Homo sapiens: one gene and its partners. The protein of the gene in region 6 interacts with the protein of the main gene of each other region in a biochemical or structural test. Each region holds a gene or a part of one and is shown on either strand. Other genes may lie near its edges. The genes, in order: ARHGEF11, GRIP2, DLG2, PALS2, DOCK4, SHROOM3 and GOPC.

Region 1 (3,500 bases), on a different chromosome or scaffold from region 6:
TGTCCTTTCAGTGGGCCAAATGGTTTTTCAGAAATCATTGTCTGGCTTTCCTGAAAATCAGTGAAAATGAAAGCTTGAAAAGAACAGAGAACAAAGCTGCCTGATCAAATGGGAGAGAAGATGGAAGTACAGGGACATGGAAACATGGGGAGGAACTGAGAAATCCATGGCCCCTAATAGAATTGGAATAGGATTTGGAAGGTGGTTTTGTTTTTTGTTTTTTGGGACAGGGTCTCACTCTGTCGCCCAGGCTGGAGTGCAGTGGCATGATCATGGCTCACTGCAGCCTTGACCTCCCCAGGCTCAGGTGGTCCTCCCACTTCAGCCTCCTGAGTAGCTGGCATTACAGGCATGTGCCACCACACCTGGCTAATTTTTGTAGATATGAGGTTCACCATGTTGCCCAGAGTGGTCTCAAACTCCTGAACTCAAGCAATCTGCCCACCTCGGCCTCCCAAAGTCCCAGGATTATGGGTGCAAGCCACCACGCCAGGCCTGGAAGGTGTTCTTAAGGTCTGGAAGAATACCCCAATTTATTGTACTAAAACAATTGGACAGATTTCAGGAAAAAATCACAAAAATCTGGCAGGACTTCAAGGGATCCTCTTGCCCTTTACTCTGGACTCCAAATAGGGTGTCTCTTAACCTAGTAAAGACAGGTTGAAGGCCTCTCCCATTTTCAGTGATCTCTGGAGGATGGTTCCATTAGTTCAACAATTAGAAATCCCTTTGGATACGAAACTTCCTCTGCCACAATTTAAAACCATTTTATTGTCTTTCTATTGTGATTTCAGCGTAGGCCTTAAAGTCACTAGTATCCCTCTATTACCATTGTTGACTTCCTTAAGATTTTCCTCCTCATTTTAAAGAATAGCAAACTAAGACATGAATATGTGAGAAAGGGGCTTTGAAAAGTTAGAGTGAAGTAATTTCAGAGTCTTGCTTTCCAGACCCTGCTCCTTTCCAGTATTTGGGAGCAGCCACTACAAAGTGGTGTGATGGGATCTGTAGTCATCAGTCACAGCCTGGCCTCAAATCATGTAGGGAACCAATCTAGCAGCCCTCCTGGTGATGACCTGTGATCTGTGGCGCTTGACGGTTGGTTGGACTTGAAATATTTATCAGATGGCTCAGTGCAGTTCTCAGTGTTCTGAGAGATAGTACAGGAGAACATAGAGCTTACATTCTTTTTTTTTTTTTTTTTTTTTTTTTTGAGACAGTCTTGCTCTGTCACCCAGGCTGGAGTGCAGTGGCGTGATCTCGGCTCACTGCAACCTCCACCTCCTGGGTTCAAGCGATTCTCTGCCTCAGCCTCCCAAGTAGTTGGGATTACAGACACCTGCCACCACACCCGGTATACTTTTTGTATTTTTAGTAGAGACGGGGGTTTCACCATGTTGGCCAGACTGGTCTCGAACTCCTGACCTCAAGTAAACCGCCCACTTCAGCCTCCCAAAGTGCTGGGATTACAGGCATGAGCCACCGTGCATGGCCTCAAGCCTAAATGCTTGTTGGGAAATGTTATTAACAAAGCAACACAAAATAAAAAGATGGTACATAATTGCTGAATCGTTATGTACACCAAAAGGTACATTTAGAGAAGAGTGCAAGGTTGGTGCTAATAAGAATAGTCAAAGGCAGAGTAGTTAGGAATTATTCAGGTCGAAGAAAGAGAAGAGGCCATTTCAGACTAGAGGAGCAACACGAGCAAGGTTCTGTCTGGGGTGGCACCAACATGGTGTGGTCTCCAAGTGTTAAGATTATTGTAGAGCAGAGAGAAATTAGATTGATAAGATGGGTAGGGTAGGGAGAATGAAGGGATTCAGACTTTATGTGGTAGTAGAAAGGGAGCCGGGGAAGGTTTATGTATTATATGGTGATAAACATAGTGTTTAAAGAGAGAATTCTGATATTAATATATAGAGCAGAAGAGAGCTTGGGGTTAGGAAGCCTAGGAGTTTTTGTAGCAATCTTAGGAAAAGATAACGAGCTTCTGAATCAGAACGGTTATGGTGGGGACAAAGAGGAGTGGCAGGATTCCCAAGACGTTTTGGTAGCAGAATTAACCAGTATTTTAAGACTGAATCAAATTTATTTATTTATTTATTTATTTTGAGACAGAGTTTTGCTCTTGTTACGCAGGCTACAGTGCCATGGCACGATCTTGGCTCACTGCAACCCCTGCCTCCCAGGTTCAAGCAATTCTCATGCCTCAGCCTCCTGAGTAGCTGGGATTACAGGTGCCTGATCCCATGCCTGGCTAAGTTTTTATATTTTTTAGTAGAGACGGGGTTTCACCATGTTGGCCTGGCTAGTCTCAAACTCCTGATCTCAGGTGATCCGCCCGCCTCCACCTCCCACAGTGCTGGGATTACAGGTGTAAGCCACCGTGCACTGCCCTGAATCAAATTTTATTCCCAAATTTATGAGACTGGTGGACTAGGAGAAGGGTAGTGCTATTGATAGACTAGGATCTTCAGTAGAAGTCATTTTGTCTGCCATTGATACCTAGCAATTTACTGAATACAGTGGATACTTAACCTTCCTTAGACCCTTAGGTTAGGCCATTTCTACCAAATAGTTTTAGAGCTCTTCAATACAGCTTTTTAAGAGAAGCAGGAGGCTGGGCGTGGTGGCTCACGCCTGTAATCCCAGCACTTTGGGAGGCCGAGGTGGGTGGATTACCTGAGGTGAGGCGTTTGAGACCAGCCTGGCCAACATGGTGAAACCCCGTCTCTACTAAAGATACAAAAATTAGCCTGATGTGTTGGTGCACGCCTGTAGTCCCAGCTACTTGGGAGGCTGAAGCAGGAGAATCACTTGAACCCGGGAGACAGAGGTTGCAGGGAGCTGAGATCGCACCCCTGCACTCCAGCCTGGGTGACAGAGCAAGACTCTGCCTCAAAAAAACAAACAAAAAACAAACAAAAAAAAGTGAGTAGTCAGTTCTGGGAGATCCCTTAGGAAGTTGGGTCATGGTTTGAGGAGATTAGCATGTATTTGATGGATCCTGATTAATCAGCCATATATATATATGTATATATATTCATATATGTATTCATATATGTATTCATATATATATTCATATATGTATTCATATATTCATATATATATTTTCATATATATATTCATATATATTCATATATGTATTTTCATATATATATTCATATAGATTCATATATATATTCCTATATAGATTCATATATATATTCCTATATATAGATTCATATATATATTCCTATATATAGATTCATATATATATATTCCTATATATAGATTCATATATATATATTCCTATATATAGATTCATATATATATATTCCTATATATAGATTCATATATATATATTCCTATATATATTCCTATATATATTCCTATATATATTCCTAAATATATACATATATATATTCCATATATATATTCCTATATATATATTCCTGTATATATATTCCTATATATATATATTCCTGTATATATATATATTCCCACATAGCCACCCA
Region 2 (3,500 bases), on a different chromosome or scaffold from region 6:
CAGGGTGCGTGTGTAAGTTCCAACAGGCGGATGGGGAAGGCCTCCCTGAGGAGGTGACATTTCTACAAGTTCCCGAAGGAGCTGAGACGGGAGTTTTGATGATGTCTGGGGAAGAGTTTTGTGGGCAGAGGGAACAGCCGATGCAAAGGCCCTAGGGGGATGTGAGTCTGGTGGGCCTTGGGTCGAAAGGACAGATGTGTCCAGGAAGGCTTCACCTCCCTTTAGAGTGCAGTTGCCAAGGTGGGGTGGGCCCATAGGGTCAAATCTCCGCTTTGTCACTTCTGGCTGTGTAACCAGGAACAAGTCACTTAGCATCTCCATGCCTCAGTTTTCCCAGCTGTAAAATGGGGAGAATAACAGTGCCCAAGTGGCAGTGTGGTTATGAGGATTAAGTGAGAAAATGCAGTGTGCTGGAGTGGAGCTGGCCAGGGCGAGCATCAGGAGGTGAAGTCAGGGGACCGGGGACTGACAGTTGTGGTGAGGACTTCTGCTTCTACTCTCCCTGAGCTAGACACAGTCTTCTTGTGACTGCAGGCAGCCGCCATTGGGAAACTGAATGGTTCTGTGGGTGACCCTGATTTTGAGGTCACGTTCCTTGACATTGCTGGTTTTAGAGTAGGGCAGGAGAGCAGGACCCAGAACGCAGAAGGCCAACCCCCAACTTGAGACTGCGCCCCCGCTCTCCCATGGTGGGATGTTGGCCTGCGTGTGGCTCAGGCCTGCTGGACAGGAGCCCCTCTCCCTGTGTGGAGGAGGATTGTGGGGGTGGCGGCCTCTCCAGGTGATGCCATGGGTCCTGCTAGCCCTGATGCACCCAGCCTGTGAGTGCCTGAGCCCTAACTTAGGTATTCTTGGGATACTGGAGCTGTCACCTTCCCAGTGCCCTGATGCTTCTCATTTGGGGTCTGTTGCCCTCCTGTTTGGAGGGAAAGAGCAGAGCCAAGGGTTCAGGGCATGGTCTGTTGTGAGGTCAGGGAGCCCTGGGTTCCAGGTGCCTCTGCAGCTCACCAGCTCAGTGGCTTCTCTGGGCCTCAGGCTCCCTATCTGTAAACTGGGGACAATCGGTGAGCCTCCCTCCATGGTTCTTAGGACAATTAACTGACTTAGCATTCATAAAGTGCTTAGAGCAGGCCTGGCCCAGGGAAGGGCCCAACACTGGGTGCTACTTATTAAGGTTCTTTATTTTTTTCTTTGCAATCCTTGGCAACAAATGAATGAGGCTTCAAATTTTTAAATGTATTGATGCATTTCTTTTTGTCTCCCTGAAAAACGTGCTTCTGCCGAGCTTATCTGATCTTTCTATGCTGCTCTCCCCATGGAAGCTGGGCTTCCTGGGAGGCTTGTCGCCCGTGGGGATTGGAACTGTCATTCAGAGGTCAGCCTGTAACTGGCTTTGAGGCATCTCCATCGAGCCCTTGGCCTGTTCCAGCCCTCAGTGGCCAGGGAGGAACGCCCAAAGGAGCTGGGGCTCTGCCTGGAGCCGAACAGCCCCGGGGCTGCAGGCATTACAGCAACTTCCAGGCTTGCATGGATGGGGGAGTAGGCAGGAAGGTACCCAGAGGGTAGGGCCAGACCCCTTAGGGAGCCAGAAGGCCTGGGCTTCAATCCTGGCTCTGCCACTTAGAAGCTCTGTGCCCCTGGGCAGTTCCCTTGACCTCTCTGTGCCTCATTAGGCCTGGGTTCAAACCCTGGCCCTGCCCTTTATCATGGGATATCACTTAACCTCTCTGTGCCTCAGTTTCCTCATCTGTAAAATGAGAATCATGATTATACCGCCTCAAAAGTGGTGAGGATTAAATGAGATCGTGCTTAGGAAGCACAGAAACCAGCACTTAATCACTAGGAGCCATCATCATGATTGATCTAGGAAAACCTTTCAACAAGGTGAGGGAAGCAGGCAGGGAGGGAACTGCCATGTTTTATGGTTTCTGTGCACACTTCCCCACAGTTCCTCCCAGCAACCCATGAGGTGGGCACCAGTACCCCCATTTTGCAGAGGAGAAGTCTGAGGCTCAGAGAGAAGTGACTTGTCCCAGATCCCTTAGCCAGTTGGCAGCCGATTTAGAATCAAAGTCCCAAGTTGGACTGACTCCAAAGCCTATCCCTCCCTTCCCACCATATCAACAATCCCTTCCATGGTGGGGCGAAGCTGGCTGGGGCTGGACCGTCACTTGGTGGAGTACTTAGCGCCCATGTCCTCTTCAGCACCCAGGGTCCCGGTGAGCTGGCATGGTCCTGGCCGACAGCTCACCGTCCCTGCAAATCATGTCCTGTTCGCCCCAAGTGGAGCCTCTGGGCATTTGTTTTCTCAGTGGTCCCTTTTGAGATGCTGAGTCCTCCCTCCAGGAGGCTCACAGAACAGGGCAGCAGTCAAAGCCGGCTGACTTTATAGTCCCACCCACTCCCCCACGCTTCTTTCCAGCCACCCGCTTAGGCAGGACCCTGGCGAAGGCAGCCTGGCAAGGAGTTGACTTCCTTTTCCCTTTGTCAAAGCTCAATAGCCCCCTGAGGCCCCAGAGAGCGGGAGATAATGAAGGCAAATTAGCCATGATTTCAAGAGAAATAAAATAAAAAAGAAGGCCACCCACCCCGGCTGCAGCGTGGGCCTGAGTACCAGGTGCACAGGTCTGAGCTCCAAGCACGTTTCTCCCTCTGTCCCTCCTCCCCTGACTTGCACACCCCACATTCGCCGGGACTGGCTGGCACCACTGCGGAAATGAATTTTCCTCTGAAGCGAGTTCCTACAGGACGATTGACTGAAGGCAAAAGCTCATAATTGCCCGTTGCTGGAAGGAGGAGACAGGGAAAAAAAAAAACATGGATAAAAATATCTCTGTTTTTTATGCACGTTTCCAGCTGAAAATTGGTGGGAAAGATGTTTTTGAAAAGCCTTCATCTCTAAGCATATAATTACCAGGTCCTGGAACAAAAAAGAGAGAGTGGGAGAGAGCAAGCATGTTCTCTGAGGAGGGGGCCTAGGGTCTGACCCCCCCAAGGGGTTTTCTATAAATAAAGTAATCCCCTCAACTTCTCAAGCTCTGGCCAGCTGGAGTCAGCCATGGGAGAGACACCCCCATTTTACAGAGGGGAAAATGGAGGCTCGAGTCACACAGCCAATTGTAATTCTAACCCTATTTTGATTCTTGGTTTGGATGCTGCCTCAGTTCCCCCCCATCTGAGGATGTTCGTGAAAGAGAGGCCCTATGTCCCCTCTGAATAGGCATCAGCAAACACTGCAGCATTCCTTCCGGGCACCTTTCTGACTATGCCAGGGGGTCTTGGGTGCTCAGAAGCCTCTCATCTGGCAACTCGCCTATCAAGAATGGCTTCTTGACTTCCACAAGAGGCCACCAAGGGCACACCCTGAGATGCCTAGGGAAGTCTCTCGAGGCCTCGCCTGCTGCCCACTGACTCTTTGCGCACAGTAGTATGACTTGTTTTGCAGCACGCAGTCAAGTCTCTGACAGCTGGGAAAAGAGATGGCTCACAGGCTGAACCCC
Region 3 (3,500 bases), on a different chromosome or scaffold from region 6:
AAGTAATGCCCTTAGCATCTCTTACTGTCTGGCAATTAAGAATCACCCTTGCAGGACAGTTTTGCAGTTGTTTCCAACTCTTTCTCTTTACCTACATCTTCCTTTCCCATTCTGCAGTAAACTACACCCGGCCGGTGATTATCCTGGGGCCCATGAAGGATCGGATCAATGACGACTTGATATCTGAATTCCCTGATAAATTTGGCTCCTGTGTGCCTCGTAAGTGTCATTTTTCTTTCCTCTAGGAAAAACAAAAAGAGCTTGGATTTCTTTATGAGATGGTAAAATGTAATTCCATCCTCCAGTAGTCTCTCCAGTAATTCAAATACCAACCATTTCCGATTAGCTGAGTGCCTTATTTAATTTATTTGCCTAACACTTTTCATTTATGCTGCCGTGTGTCATTCTGTATTTAATAAAAATAATAATGTTTTCTCTAAACTGATTGTAGCCCCTTAAAAGGCAGGATGAATTTTTGTGGCCCCCAACCATTTAAAACAGCATAGGATTTATGATAGGCATCAGTATGTTTTCATAGATTGATCAAAATGCCACTGAAACATTATTTTTTATAGGATGGAAGAGATCGGAAACAAAGCCATATATTAAAATCCTCTCAGGATGACTTAGGGCCATATGTCAATCCCAAAACCCAATAGGCTTTCCCATGTTGACAGTCCCAGGTTTAGGGAGGGTGAAGACAAGAAAATGTGTAACACTTCAATTTGACCTCTAGGCCATTACAGACTTTAAACTACTTTCTTCTCATTATAGATTATCATCAGGCTTCTGGTCCCTCTGATTGTAGCCTTATTAGATTCTAACTGCTCTGCCTCTTCCCCTCCCCACCCCTACCATACTTTCTCCACTCATTCACCCCGTCTACACCCCGACTCTGTCAAACAGAAATGCATGCAGACCTTCTACGTATGTAGACAGGTCCATCAGGAAATTTTAATTTATTAGATAATGGAGCTCTTACATCTGATACCAACAAATATTTCTCTTCCATTCTATGTGTTTTAAGCCTGATGCTTTCAAGTGTCTCTAACATTCCAGTACTGCAAATTTTACATGAGATACTTAAGAATAGCAGGAATTGTATGTGTCCAGTACATGGCCAAAAGACTAGGATGATTGCTGTATCTCATGAAACAATTCCCAGCAAGGGCTCTGGGAAGAGATCCTGCCATAGAACATATCCTGAGAAAGTCTTCAGACAGGAAGGAGCAAATGAAACTCCAGGTCGTTTACAGCAAGCTTCCAGCTTGCTCCTCCACTTTTGAGAGAAAGAAAACAGAAGGTACTTAAGCATTCTTTCTGCTTTCCCTTTCACCTTGCATATTCTCTCTTTTTTGAATTAATAGAACCATTTTGTGATAGTCAATAGATGTTCATTGTACAAAACTTCAAAAACACTAAAAAGAAAGTTAAACGAGAAAATTAGAAGTATACAAAATCCCACACAATACCCAGAGATAACATCATTGTTAATATTTTTGTACATTTCCATCTATTCTTTCTATGCATGCATTTTTTCTCTGTGATGATTTTTTTGCTTATTTAAAATTTTATATAACTATTTCAAATGATTATTATATCCCAATTAATCATTCTTTATGAACATTTTGGTTTTTCCCTATTTTTCACTATTATGAATTGTGACAAAAATATCATCGTAATTGTGTTATAATTATTACTTATAAAATAATATAATGAATATCTTTAAGGATAAATCTGTATCTGAAGTTTTGATCATTTTTAAAAACATATTTCTAGGAAAAAATAAGTGAGTCAAAGATTAAAAATATTTTAACAGCTTTTATTCATATTGCTAGATTGCTTTCCCCTTCTCTTCTTACCAAAAAATTTAGGTGAAATGGTTAGAGTTGCTGATTTTTAGTCCTATCTAACTGTGATTATCTTATTTTATATATGTTGAGAGTCTGAATTTTATGGTCCTTTATAGAATGTTAAGTTTTTGTTCTGACAGGTGATAATTTACTGACACAGCAGCTTCTTCCATTTGTGACATGGTTTTAGACTTTGTGAAGATGGGTGTAGAGTAAGTCTAGAGTAACCTTTTAAAATGTGGCCTTTCTGGGATCTCCATGGGTTCTGACTCAACTCCCGTGTCTTCTAGCACCATGTGATGTCTAAACTCTCCATTTGGAAATGGCCTCTAGGTAGAGAGGTGGGGTGAATGCTCTCTCATATGTTTCTCTTTTCTCAAAGATTACAGCCCTGTACTTCCTGTTGTCTGATATCTGAAAACAGTTGTTTCATATATTTTGTCCAGTTTTTTAGTTGCTTATGGTGGGAGGGTAAGACTAGTACCTGTTACTATGTCATATTTCTTCATACTACATATTTCTACATATCAATGTTGAGGATGTGGTGGAGAATATAGGTGTAAAGCAAGTTTATGGGTATAAATGCACCTTAATTTTATCATTTTTTGTTTTATAAAGATACTACGAGGCCAAAGCGAGACTACGAGGTGGATGGCAGAGACTATCACTTTGTCATTTCCAGAGAACAAATGGAGAAAGATATCCAAGAGCACAAGTTTATAGAAGCCGGCCAGTACAATGACAATTTATATGGAACCAGTGTGCAGTCTGTGAGATTTGTAGCAGAAAGAGTATGTTCACCAATCTTCTTACACCTCCCCTGAAGAAGGTTTCTAGGTTGCAAACTGCATTTTTTTTTTTTTTTGGTCATTACTCTTTCTTGATTGCAATTGTAAATTTTGATTTAATAATTTAAAACATCCAAGCAGAGAATCACCTTAGAGCAATGTCATTAATCTTTGTTCTAATTTCAATAAAGTATTCTCACTGACTTGGAAAAAGTAGGAAGAGGGCTTTGTCTTTGACTCACTATCTGAGGCCCCAATACACAACCTTGATTTTATTAAGGCAGGTTTACTACTTTAGTTGTAAACCAAGGGGATAGCATTCCTGAATTATTTTGTTAGAGGAAGTTATTTTTTTTCTCTCTCTCTGAAAACTTGACATCCTCATGGTAGAAGAGAAGATAGATGAGAAGGGCTGCCCAGCCTTTTGCTCGCAGAAGTTCTAGCTTAGAGGAGGTGTAGATGCTGCTATTATCTTTTTGCTGGTAACTTCAGGGGCATGGAAAAGAGAAGAATGTTCAAGAGAGGGTACCATAGGAAGGCACCTGGGTGTGGCTACACAATCTGCCTACAGAGGGATCCTATTTCCTGTGAACACAGAGAACCAGTATCATAGGAGAAGATATTTGTTGGGTTGATTTGATTTGCCATGACCTTTCTCAATGTACCGCTAAAGAATTAAGTAATTTTGATGTCTATCTAAGAATACACTAAGAAGTTGCATCTATTTTCCTCCCTCTCAAAAGTTCAGTTCTATCAACTAAATGAATACTGGTTCTAGTCAAACTGTCCTGGATAATTGCACCTATTTTCCTCTTTGTTCATGTTGTTAACTTGAAATGTTCTGACTGGTGAATAATCA
Region 4 (3,500 bases), on a different chromosome or scaffold from region 6:
AAGACATAGAAAACTTTTATAAGAACAAAATGAACTTCAAACTCATGCTCAAAAATAAGGGTCAAATGAGATCATTATGTATAATAGGACTCCTGTTTTCCCCTTGTTTTCTGGCTCAACCTTGAGAGTGGTCGTCTTAGACTACTGTGAAGAGTATTTATAAAGTATCTTTGAGAATCTTCAAGATGCTATGATGGCTTTTCATATTTAAAACTGTGTGATCTTTAAGGTTTCTGGAATTAGTCACCAAAGGTGTGTATAATAAAACTTCTCAATAAATGTAATCCAGCATATAAACAGAACCAAAGACAAAAACCACATGATTATCTCAATAGATGCAGAAAAGGCCTTTGACAAAATTCAACAGCCCTTCATGCTAAAAACTCTCAATAAATTAGGTATTGATGGGACGTATCTCAAAATAATAAGAGCTATCTATGACAAACCCACAGCCAATATCATACTGAATGGGCAAAAACTGGAAGCATTCCCTTTGAAAACTGGCACAAGACAGGGATGCCCTCTCTCACCACTCCTATTCAACATAGTGTTGGAAGTTCTGGCCAGGGCAATTAGGCAAGAGAAGGAAATAAAGGGTATTCAATTAGGAAAAGAGGAAGTCAAATTGTCCCTGTTTGCAGATGACGTGATTGTATATCTAGAAAACCCCATTGTCTCAGCCCAAAATCTCCTTAAGCTGATAAGCAACTTCAGCAAAGTCTCAGGATACAAAATCAATGCATAAAAATCACAAGCATTCTTATACACCAACAACAGACAGAGAGCCAAATCATGAGTGAACTCCCATTCACAATTGCTTCAAAGGAATAAAATACCTAGGAATCCAACTTACAAGGGATGTGAAGGACCTCTTCAAGGAGAACTACAAACCACTGCTCAACGAAATAAAAGAGGATACAAACAAATGCAAGAACATTCCATGCTCATGGGTAGGAAGAATCAATATCGTGAAAATGGCCATACTGCCCAAGGTAATTTACAGACTCAATGCCATCCCCATCAAGCTACCAATGCCTTTCTTCACAGAATTCGAAAAAACTACTTTAAAGTTCATATGGAACCAAAAGAGAGCCTGCATCACCAAGTCAATCCTAAGCCAAAAGAACAAAGCTGGAGGCATCACACTACCTGACTTCAAACTATACTACAAGGCTACAGTAACCAAAACAGCATGGGACTGGTACCAAAACAGAGATACAGATCAATGGAACAGAACAGAGCCCTCAGAAATAACGCCGCGTATCTACAACTATCTGATCTTTGACAAACCTGAGAAAAACAAGCAATGGGGAAAGGATTCCCTATTTAATAAATGGTGCTGGGACCACTGGCTAGCCATACATAGAAAGCTGAAACTGGATCCCTTCCTTACACCTTATACAAAAATCAATTCAAGATGGATTAAAGACTTAAACGTTAGACCTAAAACCATAAAAACCCTAGAAGAAAACCTAGGCGTTACCATTCAGGACACAGGCATGGGCAAGCACTTCATGTCTAAAACACCAAAAGCAATGGCAACAAAAGACAAAATTGACAAATGGGATCTAATTAAACTAAAGAGCTTCTGCACAGGAAAAGAAACTACCATCAGAGTGAACAGGCAACCTACAAAATGGGAGAAAATTTTCCCAACCTACTCATCTGACAAAGGGCTAATATCCAGAATCTACAATGAACTCAAACAAATTTACAAGAAAAAAACAAACAACCCCATCAAAAAGTGGGCGAAGGACATGGACAGACACTTATGCAGCCAAAAAACACATGAAAAAATGCTCACCATCACTGGCCATCAGAGAAATGCAAATCAAAACCACAATGAGATACCATCTCACACCAGTTAGAATGGCAATCATTAAAAAGTCAGGAAACAACAGGTGCTGGAGAGGATGTGGAGAAATAGGAACACTTTTACACTGTTGGTGGGACTGTAAACTAGTTCAACCATTCTGGAAGTCAGTGTGGCGATTCCTCAAGGATCTAGAACTAGAAATACCATTTGACCCAGCCATCCCATTACTGGGTATATACCCAAAGGACTATAAATCATGCTACTATAAAGACACATGCACACGTATGTTTATTGCGGCATTATTCATAATAGCAAAGACTTGGAACCAATCCAAATGTCCAACAATGATAGACTGGATTAAGAAAATGTGGCACATATACACCATGGAATACTATGCAGCCATAAAAAATGATGAGTTCATGTCCTTTGTAGGGACATGGATGAAATTGGAAATCATCATTCTCAGTAAACTATCGCAAGAACAAAAAACCAAACACCGCATATTCTCACTCATAGGTGGGAACTGAACAATGAGAACACATGGACACAGGAAGGGGAACATCACACTCTGGGGACTGTTGTGGGGTGGGGGGAGGGGGGAGGGATAGCACTGGGAGATATACCTAATGCTAGATGACGAGTTAATGGGTGCAGCACACCACCATGGCACATGTATACATATGTAACTAACCTGCACATTGTGCACATGTACCCTAAAACTTAAAAGTATAATAATAAGAGGGGAAAAAAAAAAACCTTAAAAAAATAAAAAAATAAAAAAACTTCTAAGGCAACTTGTAACTCCCCAAATAAATGCATAATAGGACTTGGTTCAACATTGTGAACATTAATTTTAAAAATTAATGTTTTTTCGGTGAAGTCCTACAGTGAAACCATATAGGGGAATGCGCTGCTTGAAATAAATATGTATATGCACATGTATTACCTCTACCTCCATGCTGAGGGAATCTTAATTCTTAGAGAAATGTTCTTTAGTTTACAAGTGAATTTTAACTACAATCCTATTCTCTACTAACACTTCAAAAAACAATCTACGTTGCCACATATTTAAACTGCTTTCCATTTCTAGAACAGAGAAATTAGAACATGAAGGTTTGACTACAACTGATTCCTTAGACTTCTATACTGCGCAACTACATAATGTGATTTTTTAGAAGTAATTTTTTATGATAGGCAAAATTCTCAATTTTAGCTGCTCTTCAAATAATGAAGACACAATCAACAAAGTAATACTTCATTTGTTAACTAAGCTCAAGATGTCAAGATGTCAATGTTAAATTGAAAACAGGATGCATAACATAGCCCATCTCCCTAAAATAACAATGTTTTTCTATTTTATCTTAGGATCATTTTGTAATATATAAAGAAAGTTAAATCACCTTAATTTTATAACAGAAAATTTTAGAAATTCAAAAATATATGGAAAATAAGCAATATACTCCCAAATAACCAATGGATCAAACAAGCAATCACAAGTGAAAGAAAATACTTTGAGAGGAGATGGTGCTGTTGAAGAGCACAGTTACAGACAGAGCTGACCAGGCTCTTCCAGAGTGCCAGTTGTCCAGCAGCATGTTCATTACCCTGAAGATGTATGATGGTTGAACTAAACCCATTCATTCTAAGAAAAGGTTCTGTGGAGGGCTTTAAGCCCTTGATAATT
Region 5 (3,500 bases), on a different chromosome or scaffold from region 6:
GGCCCAAATTGTTAGGCTGAGTGGGCCGATGTTTCAAAACTATTCCTGCGGTTGCATTTCACTCTCAGCAAAAAATCACACTGATGAAGTGTCAAGTCTAACAAAAATACCTTCATTCATTTCGATGTTGGAGACGTCGATCTTAACCTGTCATGGCTGGGAATATCCAAGTAAACAGGATCAAATGCTTATCTGATAACCTATTAACCTTTATATATTACATAGATGGGGGAAGGATATCAACCTGATTTCATGCTTTTTAAACTCACCTCAGGGAACAGTCAGGCATGTGCATGCCCACAGGTGCTTAAGGTATAAGGTAGAAATATGGGAGAACAGCAAGGACCATATTGGACTGGGAGACAGACGATGGGGTACACTCCAAGGCTATTTAAGCAGTTATTTGTCGAACTAAAAGAGAGAAGCTGTGGCCTCTGGCAATTATCAACTATGTTGAGAGGAGGCAGGCACTAGCCAAAGCATAATATTATTCATAACTTTTCAGCACCACCTGAGCCAGTAGAAAAGGAGGAGCAGTTAAAATAGCAGCTCCTATCAAAGAGTAGATCCCAATGACTAAATTGCCTGAGGCCAGGGACCAGGTCTTCACATCATCAGCATAAAGTACAGTGCCTGGCAAGCAGCTGGCACTCAGTAAATCCTAACATAAATGAATGGATGACTTTCAGCAGGTGTGAAGGAAAAGGTTGTTTTCCATTCATATTTCTTTCTTATGAACATTTATAATCATCAGGGAGTACAGTGATGAAGTGGGACTCTTAACAGCCGAAGTGAGATAACCAGACATTTTAGACCAAAGAATATCCAGTGAAACAGAGACAAGAAGGAAAGACTTTATATTTTAGGGCTCAGGAATAGAATTCAGGAGGTTTTTTTCCCTTTTTAATCAAAATAAGTTCTACCCATTTAAAAAGGGTGTGTTAGCAGGGAAGAGACTATCTCAAGAGACACTTCAGTAGTGCTCCATTTCTTCCTACACTCCCTTTTAAATTTTCCTATATCGCCTCTTCTGCTGAGAAAAGCTTGAAAGGAACCACTTCTAAACTAATTACAAGATACAGGGCCTTACCTGTATGCAAGTGCCCCAGCAAAATGACTCTCAATGTAAGTGTCCATTACAGGTTTAAAATGATGAAATTTGCTATCTTGCAGCAAATTTATTATGTGAACCTAAAAAAAGAAAATTGAGCTTTATAAAACTAAATGCAAATCAAGGTTTTCCTTTTTTTTTTGCTTCTTTTTAAAATGAACTCTTACATTATTAAGCACATGTTTCTGAACCAGCCTCATGAAAGTCAAGATTGAGAGACAAAACAGTTAAAATACAATTAAGGGAATTTGAACTTACCAAAGAATCAAACACTTTAGACCCATATTTTTGGGAATTTTCATCTAAAATTCCAAATAAGGTATCCAGTGTATCCTGCAGAAACTGTTAGATAAAGAAGTAGCAAATGAGTAAATAAGATACTATCTGTCTTTTTCCTCCAAATGTTCTTTATTCTATGAATCTCTGCAAGGAAAATAGTAATGAAATACTATATACCTTTACTATCTCTGAGCCATCAATTTCTTTTAATTTAGAGAGACAGCCAGTGATCTTGTCTGGGTGGGTTCTCCATTTCAAAAGATCAAGCATATCACCTTTCAAAATAGAAAAGGAAGATTAATTGCCTTAATAGAGAACAGGTCCTCACATGAAAGCGTTCTGCTAGTAAAAGTAAAATTCTTAACACATGTGGCTCCCCTCTCCTAGCCACTCAAGTTGCAGGCTCCCACAAACTATGACTAGCCCTCTCTAGGATGGCATTTATTTCACTGTATTCTGTTTCCTCTCCACTGCTCTTGACTTACAAACTCCTACCCATCCTTTAGTCCTCAGATCGGATGTTGCTTCATTTTGGAAGCCTTTCCTGAAATCTCGAGCTAACTGTCCCTTCTACATGCTTCCACATCACAGTAGCACTTACAAATCCTTACAAATCAGGCAGGTGACAAATATTTGTTGATTAATTTTTCTGCCTCCTCCTGGAAAGATGAGAGTTTCTTGAGGGCTGGGAACCTGCTTTATTCCCGTTTGGGTGCCCAGCACATAGCACTCTGCCTAGCAACCAACTCCACCCAGGAACAAAGGTCTTCTTGGCAATGTGACCCAAATCTTGCAGACTAAAAGAATGGTAACAGGCCCAGTGATTTCTTAGATCATCCAGGGAGCTCTCAACCTGAGAAGAGCAGCTCCTGGACTCCACAGGCCATCTTTCATCCCAGAGTCCAGATAAGCACAGGGCCCAGCTCTTTAACCCTTTCCTAAACAGACATGAGGGCTTTGGTCCAGCAGGTCCTTAGAGAACCTCTTCACCTGGGGAGGGAATAAATTTATCTTTCTTGGGCAGAAGTTACAAAGGCTGTGGGAGATGGTCTCCATGCATTATTAGTCTCCAACGCATGCAGGGAGAGGTGGCATCTGGAGGCCAATGAATGCAGTGAGAACTGAAGGCTCGCGTGTGCCGAGCACGCGCAGGGCAGCGGGACCTGGTAGAACTGGCCTCAGGGCTCAGTGGAGTTGCCAGACTAGACTGGCCGAGAGAGGAGCCAGGACAGAATTTCCAGGCAGGGAAGCAGGAAATTTACTTCAAATCACTTGTTTTAGCAGAAACCCAAAAGGGACTTTCTGAGAAACAGAAAGATGATGAGGGAACAAAAACTCCAAACCCCCCAAACCAAGGAAGTAGGTAAGATGAGAAAGAAAAAGAGAATATAGAGAACACCAGTGAGAAAAAGCATTAAGAATCTCAAGGAGAAAGAGAAGCAAGCTCCACCAAAGCCAGATTCAAGAGAAAAACCTCACAAAGGATTTACTATTAATAGTAAGGAATTCAGTACCAAACAGGAATGTTTATCTGCAACAAACACGGGTAAGAGGAGGAGGAGGAATTAGAATGAGAAAAATAAAGTGATTTTAAAAATACTGACTTTGAAAAAGAGATTTATGATGTTTTCATAACCAAAAACCCTGAAAATGTTGACTATTCAGATGTAATTCAGACATCCTGGGGTATGACTGAAACCTTTTAAAACTGATTGGTTATATTTGGCATATCAGATATTTCCACAGAGTGAGACTCAGGGCGACAAAGGCAAAGCTCTATTGTTCTCCCCAGTTTGCTGCTTCCCTCCTACCTACTTCCTACTTCCTGCATCTCACTTCAGGAGGCCTCCCCTCCCTGGCATCTTCTCTTTCATAATCCCTCGTGCATTTCCCCTGCCATTCACTCCTCACTTCCCACTCCACCCCCATCCCAGCTCTCACTCCTCCTTTGTGTTCTCTTTCCCTTCCTTTAAAGTGAGGCAGTTGCAGGGGCCATCAGGACCCTGCTCAATGTGAGGAGTGTGGGGAGGAAGGAGGTGGCTATGCTGGCTACCAAGTGGCAGCAGTGGAGAATGAGGACTAGGGCCCATTTAAGTAGGGCTGGAAAACA
Region 6 (3,500 bases):
CCAAGTATCATCTTTGGCATATGAGTTGCCTACCTATGCTGGATACCTACAAAGCACTATTGCATAGCTTATACTATGTTGGATACTTATAACAACTTCATTAGGTAAGAATGTTCCTTTTTTTTTTTTTTTTGAGACAATGTCTGGCTCTGTCACCTGGCTACAGTGCAGTAGCACAATCTTGGCTCACTGTAATCTCCACCTCCTGGGCTCAAGCGATCCTCCCACCTCAGCCTCCTGAGTAGCTGGGACCACAGGCATGCACCACCATGCCTGGCAAATTTTTGTATTTTTTGTAGAGACAGGGTTTTGCCATGTTGCCCAAGCTGGTTTTGAACTCCTGGACTCAAATGATCCACCTGACTCATCCTCCCAAAGTGCTAGGATTACAGGTGTGAGCCACCATGCCTGGTGCCTTTGAAAGATGAGAAAACTGGCCAGGCGTGGTGGCTCATGCCTGTAATCCCAGTACTTTGGGAGGCCGAAGCAGGCGGATCACGAAGTCAGGAGTTCAAGACCAGCCTGACCAATATGGTGAAACCCCATCTCTACTAAAAATACAAAAATTAGCCAGGCATGGGGCCCATGCCTGTAGTCCCAGCTACTTGGGAGGCTAAGGCAGGAGAATCGCTTGAACCCGGGAGGTGGAGGTTGCAGTGAGCCAAGATCATCGTGTCACTGCACTCCAGCCTGGGCGACAGAGCAAGACTCCGTCTCAAAAAAAAAAAAAAAAAAAAAAAAAAAGAAAGAAAGAGAGATGAGGAAACTGGAAACTGAGGTTCAAGAAGGCTGTTACTTGCCATGGTCACATAGCCAGTAAAAGCTAGGGTAGAAATAAAACTTGTTTATTCCCACTCAGAGCCCTATATTGTCTGGGATGTAAGCTTTTTTCTATGCTGGAAAACCTCACTTAAAATGAAAATATATATATACATATATACATATATATAACATAGAAATTACAAATATAAATTAATATACATGCACCAAAGAGCATTCAAAAATAAAGGTTTAGGCCAGGCGTGGTGGATCACTCCTGCAATCTCAGCACTTAGGGAGGTTGAGGTGGGCAGATCACTTGAGCTGAGGAGTTTGAGACCAGCCTGGGAAACATAGCAAAACCCCACCTCTACAAAAATTAGCCGGGTGTGGTGGTGTCCACCTTTAATCCCAGCTACTTGGGAGGCTGAGGTAAGAAGCTCACCCCAGGGAGGTCAAGGCTGCAATGAGCTGTGATCATGCCACTGCACTCTAGCCTAGGTGACAGAATGAAGTCTTGTCTCAAAATAAATAAATAATCTCATAAATCTCCAAGAAAAAAATACTGCTGAAAATGGAGAAGAAAACAAATAGATATTGAGGAATGAAAAAATGTAGTTGACATAAGTGCAAATTCAGGTTCAGATGCCCAGGACAGAGTGTTCTGTACATCGGTCTGCCAAATCAGGAAAGCTTCCTCTGAAGGCAGAAAAGAATCACTTCCATTCTACAAACCAAGATCCACAGCGTACCCATGTAGCCTTTGTGGAGAAAGTCATTAGAAGAGGGGGAGAAACAGTGCTTAGATTTAGTAGAGAATCTTTGCCTCATTTTGTTTCATTGAGAAGTGCCTGGGATGTCAGAGCACAAGAGATGGATGGACTCCTGGGATGAACCAAGTGGGAGAACAAGGACTCTGCACTGCAGCCCTTTGGATAAGATGTTCACTGTTTGGAACTACATCAAAGGGAGAGATGTGGAAGAGTCTGTCTATGGATTAGTTAAGATCCAGCATGTCCTTTGAGGTTTTGTTTTTTCAAAAATTGATAGAAAGTCTCTCATTATGCCTCTCCAATCACACTGTGGGCTCACTAAAATGAGATGAATATTTCTTAAAATAAATTGTGTCCCCTGCATAGAAGGCAAAGCCTTGGGAATCTATTAGCTGTGAAAGAAAGCAGAGTTCTTACTGATGCTAAGACCCATTTGGTACAGCATGTCAGCATGCTACTTGAATAAAAGTTATTTCCAACAACATTGATAGGAAATATCAAAATTAATTTGTACTAAAAAATGCGTAAGACTTTAACTAAAATAATAGTTAATTTTTAAAGGTTTAAAAGTTAAAGAAAAACATGAGTTTCCCTTTTTTCTCAATCTAATTCAATTCAACAGACATTTACCAAACATTACATATGTGCATATGAAAGACATGGTCAGACTGAGCCCAACTTAACCTGCTTGCCTTAGTTTTTAAACAGGTTTTTCTAGTAACCTGTGTGCACACTGGCCTAGGTAGCTTCTAACAAAGATTTTTAAGAATATCCTCTCTAATACTTATCTTCCTCTTTATTCATTCACATTTTCATTTTCATAATTGTTACGTATAGTTTAAGCACCACGAATAATAAAAAGAAAAGGAGGAAGGAAAGAAGGGAAGGGGAGAGAGAGAGAGAAAAGGAATCAATGAAGGGTCTTTAGCTTCTGGAAGGTAACAGTCTAACAGGGGAGCTAGGATTCATAGAAAAGTATAAAGGGTGGGGCCGGGCACGGTGACTCACGCCTGTAATCCCAGCACTTTGGGAGGCCGAGGTGGGCGGATCATAAGGTAAGGAGATCGAGACCATCCTGGCTAACACGGTGAAACCCTATCTCTACTAAAAATACAAAAAATTAGCCGTGCGTGGTGGCGGACGCCTATAGTCCCTGCTACTCAGGAGGCTGAGGCAGGAGAATGGCGTGAACCCGGGAGGTGGAGCTTACAGTGACCCGAGATCGCACCACTGCACTCCAGCCTGGGCGACAGAGCAAGACTCTGTCTCCAAAAAAAAAAAAAAAAAAAAAACTATAAAGGGCACAATCAGAGAAAGCAATTACTTCCTTACTAGCTGGGGCTTTACATACACACAGATACACACATACTCTCAATTTGCTAAGACTGAAACCATCTTGGCAACTTTTTTTGCATCTCAGTTTTCTCTCTGTGTACGAAGAAAGTTATTACATGATTGCTAATTTTCCTATAGCTGTACAATCCTGTAAGTCATTTAACATTTATTAAGCATTTGCTATGTGTAAATGAGAAAGATTTTGCTAAGAGAAGAAATATATACAGCATGAGTAAAACCCATCTGGCCTTAACGAGTACAATTTATTGGCAGGACGCCAAATGCAAACAACTACCTTTATAGGACCTTTATATACCTGTATAATAAAAAGCCACTGGGAAGCCGAGTGGGGTGGCTCACGCCTGTAATCTCGGAATTTTGGGAGGCCGAGGTAGGTACATCACTCGAGGTTGGGAGCTTGAGACCAGCCTCACCAACATAGAGAAACCCCGTCTCTACTAAAAATACAAAATTAACTGGGTGTGGTGGCGCATGCCTGTAATCCCAGCTACTTGGGAGGCTGAGGCAGGAGAATCGCTTGAACCCAGGAGGCAGAGGTTGCAGTGAGCCGAGATCGTGCCATTGCACTCCAGCCTGGGCAACAAGAGCGAAACTCTATCTCAAAAACAAAAA
Region 7 (3,500 bases), on a different chromosome or scaffold from region 6:
ATAAATAAATAAGTGTTGACTATATCACCTATTTAGGTGATATATATATCTATAAAGTATAGACGTGTGAAACAATAACCAATAGATACATTTTTTTAAGTGAGTCAGTTAAAAGATATATACACACAAATTTTTAGTTGAGTCACATTTTAAGTGTCTGCAATTTGCATATGTGACAGAGAAGACTTCTAGCCTCAGTTACAAAAAAAAGGAAGAGACAGGCTTTCTAATCCCGACAGAAAACAGCAAGTGTGAAATACAATGAAACCATATGGAGAGCAGCCCAACAATTAAGGTTTTGACATACTGCCACAATAGTTTTGCTCAAGATGCACAGTGAAAACAGTAACTGCTACTGCTATCTTTGTGCAGACAGTTTACAACACACAAGTTTATCAAAAGTGCAACAGTTTATCAGTTCACCATAAAACTCCATGCCAGGAGTTCAACATTTTGGTCTCAGGAGGCCTTTATACTAAGCATTGAGGACTCCAAGAAGCTTCTGTTTATGTGGATTATAGCTACTGATGTTTCCCATATTAGTAGGTAAAATTGAAAAATCTAAAAAAAAATTCATTTCTTTGTTAAAAATGACAATAAATCCAGAAGGTTAATATAAATAACATTTGTCTAATGACAAATAACTCTATGTTCCAAACAAAAAAATTCTAGTTAGAAGAGTAGCATTATTTTACAATTTTACAAATCTCTTCAATGGCTTTGTAGATGATAGCTGTATTTTCATATATCTGCTTCCATTCAATCTATTACAAGTATATGAAGAAAGTTCAGCCTCACACAGATATGTAGTTGCTAAATGGAAGAGTATTTTAACAGCCTTTTCAGATAACTGTCAGTATTGTTCTCTGATATTATACAAAAATTTGACAATGTGGAATTTGAAACCTTATCAGTGAACTTTTCACACTCTGTTATATTAAAATCCATTTGCCTATCTTGCATTTTGAATGGATCTTTTCCCATGCAAAATTTTATAACTTCATTTACTGGTGATTTGAAAAATATTGGACCATGAAGTTATGTAGCAATTCCAAAAGTTGACACATTTCACTTTACTGTATCAAAAAATCACATTCATTAATATCATCATCAATCTCATCAGAAAAGCTTAAGTGTTAGGAAGCTGTCAAGCTCATGGTGATCAACGTATGTTTTACAAAGTTCTAACTTTCACTTGAGAGCTCACATTTTATCACTGGCAATAAATATTATCAGTTGTCTTTCCTGAAGTGATGGACTTTGTTCATTTTTAAGAAAATGGCTTCCAAATAGTCCGAAAATCCATACTTTGTTAGTCATTCATTCAAGTAAAAATTGTCTTCCATGAAGAAAAATGGCTAGTTCAGTCACTTATGTACTTTCCCTTGAAACCAGCATCTTTGTTCAGTGTGCAGAGTAAGTGCTTTATGCATACTTCCCATCTCATCACAAAGAATATTAAAAAGACAGGTACTCAAAGGTCAATATTTAAAAATTAACTGTTACTGCCATTTCATCAAAGATATTTTTAAGCAAAATTGGTATCTTCTTCTTTTACTATGAATGGATGGCAAGGAAGAAAACAATGATTACTAGTACAGTTACTAGTATTAGCAACACTGCCTTGATTAGTGCTAAGGCACCAGCAGTTTTACCCCAATTGCTTTTGCATCAACCAGATACCATCAGTGCAAATATCAACATAGCAAAAAAAGACAAATGATGTCTTAGTATTATTATGAAAAGCTTTGACCTCATGAACTCTGCTAAAATATCTCAGAGACCCTCAGAGATCCACAGATCACAATTTGAGGACCACTGCTCTATGTAAAAGGAAGTGCTAGAGTTTTTCCTTAAAATATGTCTAAATGATAGCAAAGGAACTAAACCAAACATCCCCAAGATAATATAAGTTGATTCTAATAGCAATCATAAGGTGACAGTATACTTCATACTTATTCATAATTAGCTTAAAATTCATTGTGAGAGATGAATTTGCATCAAGACAGACAGACAATGTAGTCTACAAGATAGATCTACTCAAAATAGTATATTGGTCTTTGTTTCAGAGTCTAGAAAAAATTTTATTTATTTTTCAAGGATCACTTGCAGTAGAGTAACTGGTAATGTACTTGTCTTAACAGTCCAAGATGAATATAGAAGAACATATATGGTAAATAAACTGTTAGCATAGTATACAATAAAACAATAAACAAGGGAAAGCTCTTCATTCCTTTGATTTCCTCACAAAACAGTTTTACTGAAGAAATTCTGAGGCCTTCACATTTTAAACATTTAATAATAATGAATATGTTAATAATAATTTTTAGAGTGATTTTTACCTTGTAATACTTTGATTTCCCCACTTGTGTCTTTGCAACTAGCACCAGGGTTACCACCTCCTTCTAACTCATCAAGGTACAAACGGTAACGATGTCCACTCTCATCTTCATACTCTACGTTTTCATCATCAGAATCCACTTCAGGAGCCACATAAACTACTTCAAATTCAATCTCTCCTCTCTAAAACAGGAAATGAAAATGAGAAAGTCAAGTTATTGTAATTGTAATTTAAAAAGGATTTCCAAATTCTTTGTGGGAAGGCTTAGGGGTAGAGAGATCTAAGAGATAGCTGATTTCCAGAAAATAAATAATAAAATTCTAGAATCTAAAGAGGTAGTGAGGCCATCATGTCTGATCAGCCTCGTGAATCCTCTCTACAGTTCCTTTAAACATTATAGTAGCTCTTTCTACTGACCATAGTCTTTTTGCTAATAGATCTAAAATTTAAGAGGATGCTTAATTATTAAATTTATAGAATTTTGGAACAAGTATTCAGTTTTAAAGTTATTTGCTACTTTGTACTGCACACAGCAATTCAGCAAATACATCTAAATAGTCAGATATTAAATAAGGATATCATACAAACCTTTCCTTAACTAATTCAAGAAACCCCTAGAAAATGATTTTTGTACACTGCCATAAGGACATCATATAAATCTTTTCTTAACTAATTCAAGAAACTCCTACAAAATGATTTTTTGTTTCTTATTCAATAGGTCTTGAGTAAGAACTTACACTGAGTACCAGACACAGACATAGTGTTAATCAAGGTATTCTGTCTCGTACTAATAGTAATTACTATATTTATATATTTACTATAAATTATAGCCTTCAATCCCCAGAATAATCCTATTATAGTCTCTTTTACATGAACGAGAAAGCTGAGTGAGTCCTGCAGAAAGCAGATAACTTTCCCTACATAATGAACAAGAATAAAGAAAAACAAAAGTTTGACTCTGAAGTCCTTAATCTTTATATTATGCTAGACTAACTGTGTAATATTTGTACTGTCATTCTTTAACAATGAAACATTCAAGTAAAAAGTTACAGATCATGCCAGGCACAGTGGCTTACACCTGTAATCCCAGCACTTTGGGAGGCTGAGGCAGGTGGATCGCTTGAGCTCAGGAATTCTAGACCAGCCTGGGCAACATGGC

Evidence for each region.
Region 1: the proteins of SHROOM3 (region 6) and ARHGEF11 interact in a test that uses a peptide from one of them, tested with the Homo sapiens proteins (one large-scale study listed by IntAct).
Region 2: the proteins of SHROOM3 (region 6) and GRIP2 interact in a test that uses a peptide from one of them, tested with the Homo sapiens proteins (one large-scale study listed by IntAct).
Region 3: the proteins of SHROOM3 (region 6) and DLG2 interact in a test that uses a peptide from one of them, tested with the Homo sapiens proteins (one large-scale study listed by IntAct).
Region 4: the proteins of SHROOM3 (region 6) and PALS2 interact in a test that uses a peptide from one of them, tested with the Homo sapiens proteins (one large-scale study listed by IntAct).
Region 5: the proteins of SHROOM3 (region 6) and DOCK4 interact in a test that uses a peptide from one of them, tested with the Homo sapiens proteins (one large-scale study listed by IntAct).
Region 7: the proteins of SHROOM3 (region 6) and GOPC interact in a test that uses a peptide from one of them, tested with the Homo sapiens proteins (one large-scale study listed by IntAct).

Annotation. Positions count from the first base shown.
Region 1 is NC_000001.11:157,035,743-157,039,242, reverse strand, and holds part of ARHGEF11 (rho guanine nucleotide exchange factor 11), read left to right. Parts: intron 1-3,500. UniProt on the Homo sapiens protein: May play a role in the regulation of RhoA GTPase by guanine nucleotide-binding alpha-12 (GNA12) and alpha-13 (GNA13). Acts as guanine nucleotide exchange factor (GEF) for RhoA GTPase and may act as GTPase-activating protein (GAP) for GNA12 and GNA13.
Region 2 is NC_000003.12:14,533,843-14,537,342, reverse strand, and holds part of GRIP2 (glutamate receptor-interacting protein 2), read left to right. Parts: intron 1-3,500.
Region 3 is NC_000011.10:83,468,345-83,471,844, reverse strand, and holds part of DLG2 (disks large homolog 2), read left to right. Parts: intron 1-117; coding exon 118-219; intron 220-2,471; coding exon 2,472-2,644; intron 2,645-3,500. UniProt on the Homo sapiens protein: Required for perception of chronic pain through NMDA receptor signaling. Regulates surface expression of NMDA receptors in dorsal horn neurons of the spinal cord.
Region 4 is NC_000007.14:24,674,452-24,677,951, reverse strand, and holds part of PALS2 (protein PALS2), read right to left. Parts: intron 1-3,500.
Region 5 is NC_000007.14:111,870,900-111,874,399, forward strand, and holds part of DOCK4 (dedicator of cytokinesis protein 4), read right to left. Parts: intron 1,666-3,500; coding exon 1,568-1,665; intron 1,454-1,567; coding exon 1,370-1,453; intron 1,192-1,369; coding exon 1,091-1,191; intron 1-1,090. UniProt on the Homo sapiens protein: Functions as a guanine nucleotide exchange factor (GEF) that promotes the exchange of GDP to GTP, converting inactive GDP-bound small GTPases into their active GTP-bound form. Involved in regulation of adherens junction between cells.
Region 6 is NC_000004.12:76,441,729-76,445,228, reverse strand, and holds part of SHROOM3 (protein Shroom3), read right to left. Parts: intron 1-3,500. UniProt on the Homo sapiens protein: Controls cell shape changes in the neuroepithelium during neural tube closure. Induces apical constriction in epithelial cells by promoting the apical accumulation of F-actin and myosin II, and probably by bundling stress fibers.
Region 7 is NC_000006.12:117,564,512-117,568,011, forward strand, and holds part of GOPC (Golgi-associated PDZ and coiled-coil motif-containing protein), read right to left. Parts: intron 2,524-3,500; coding exon 2,343-2,523; intron 1-2,342.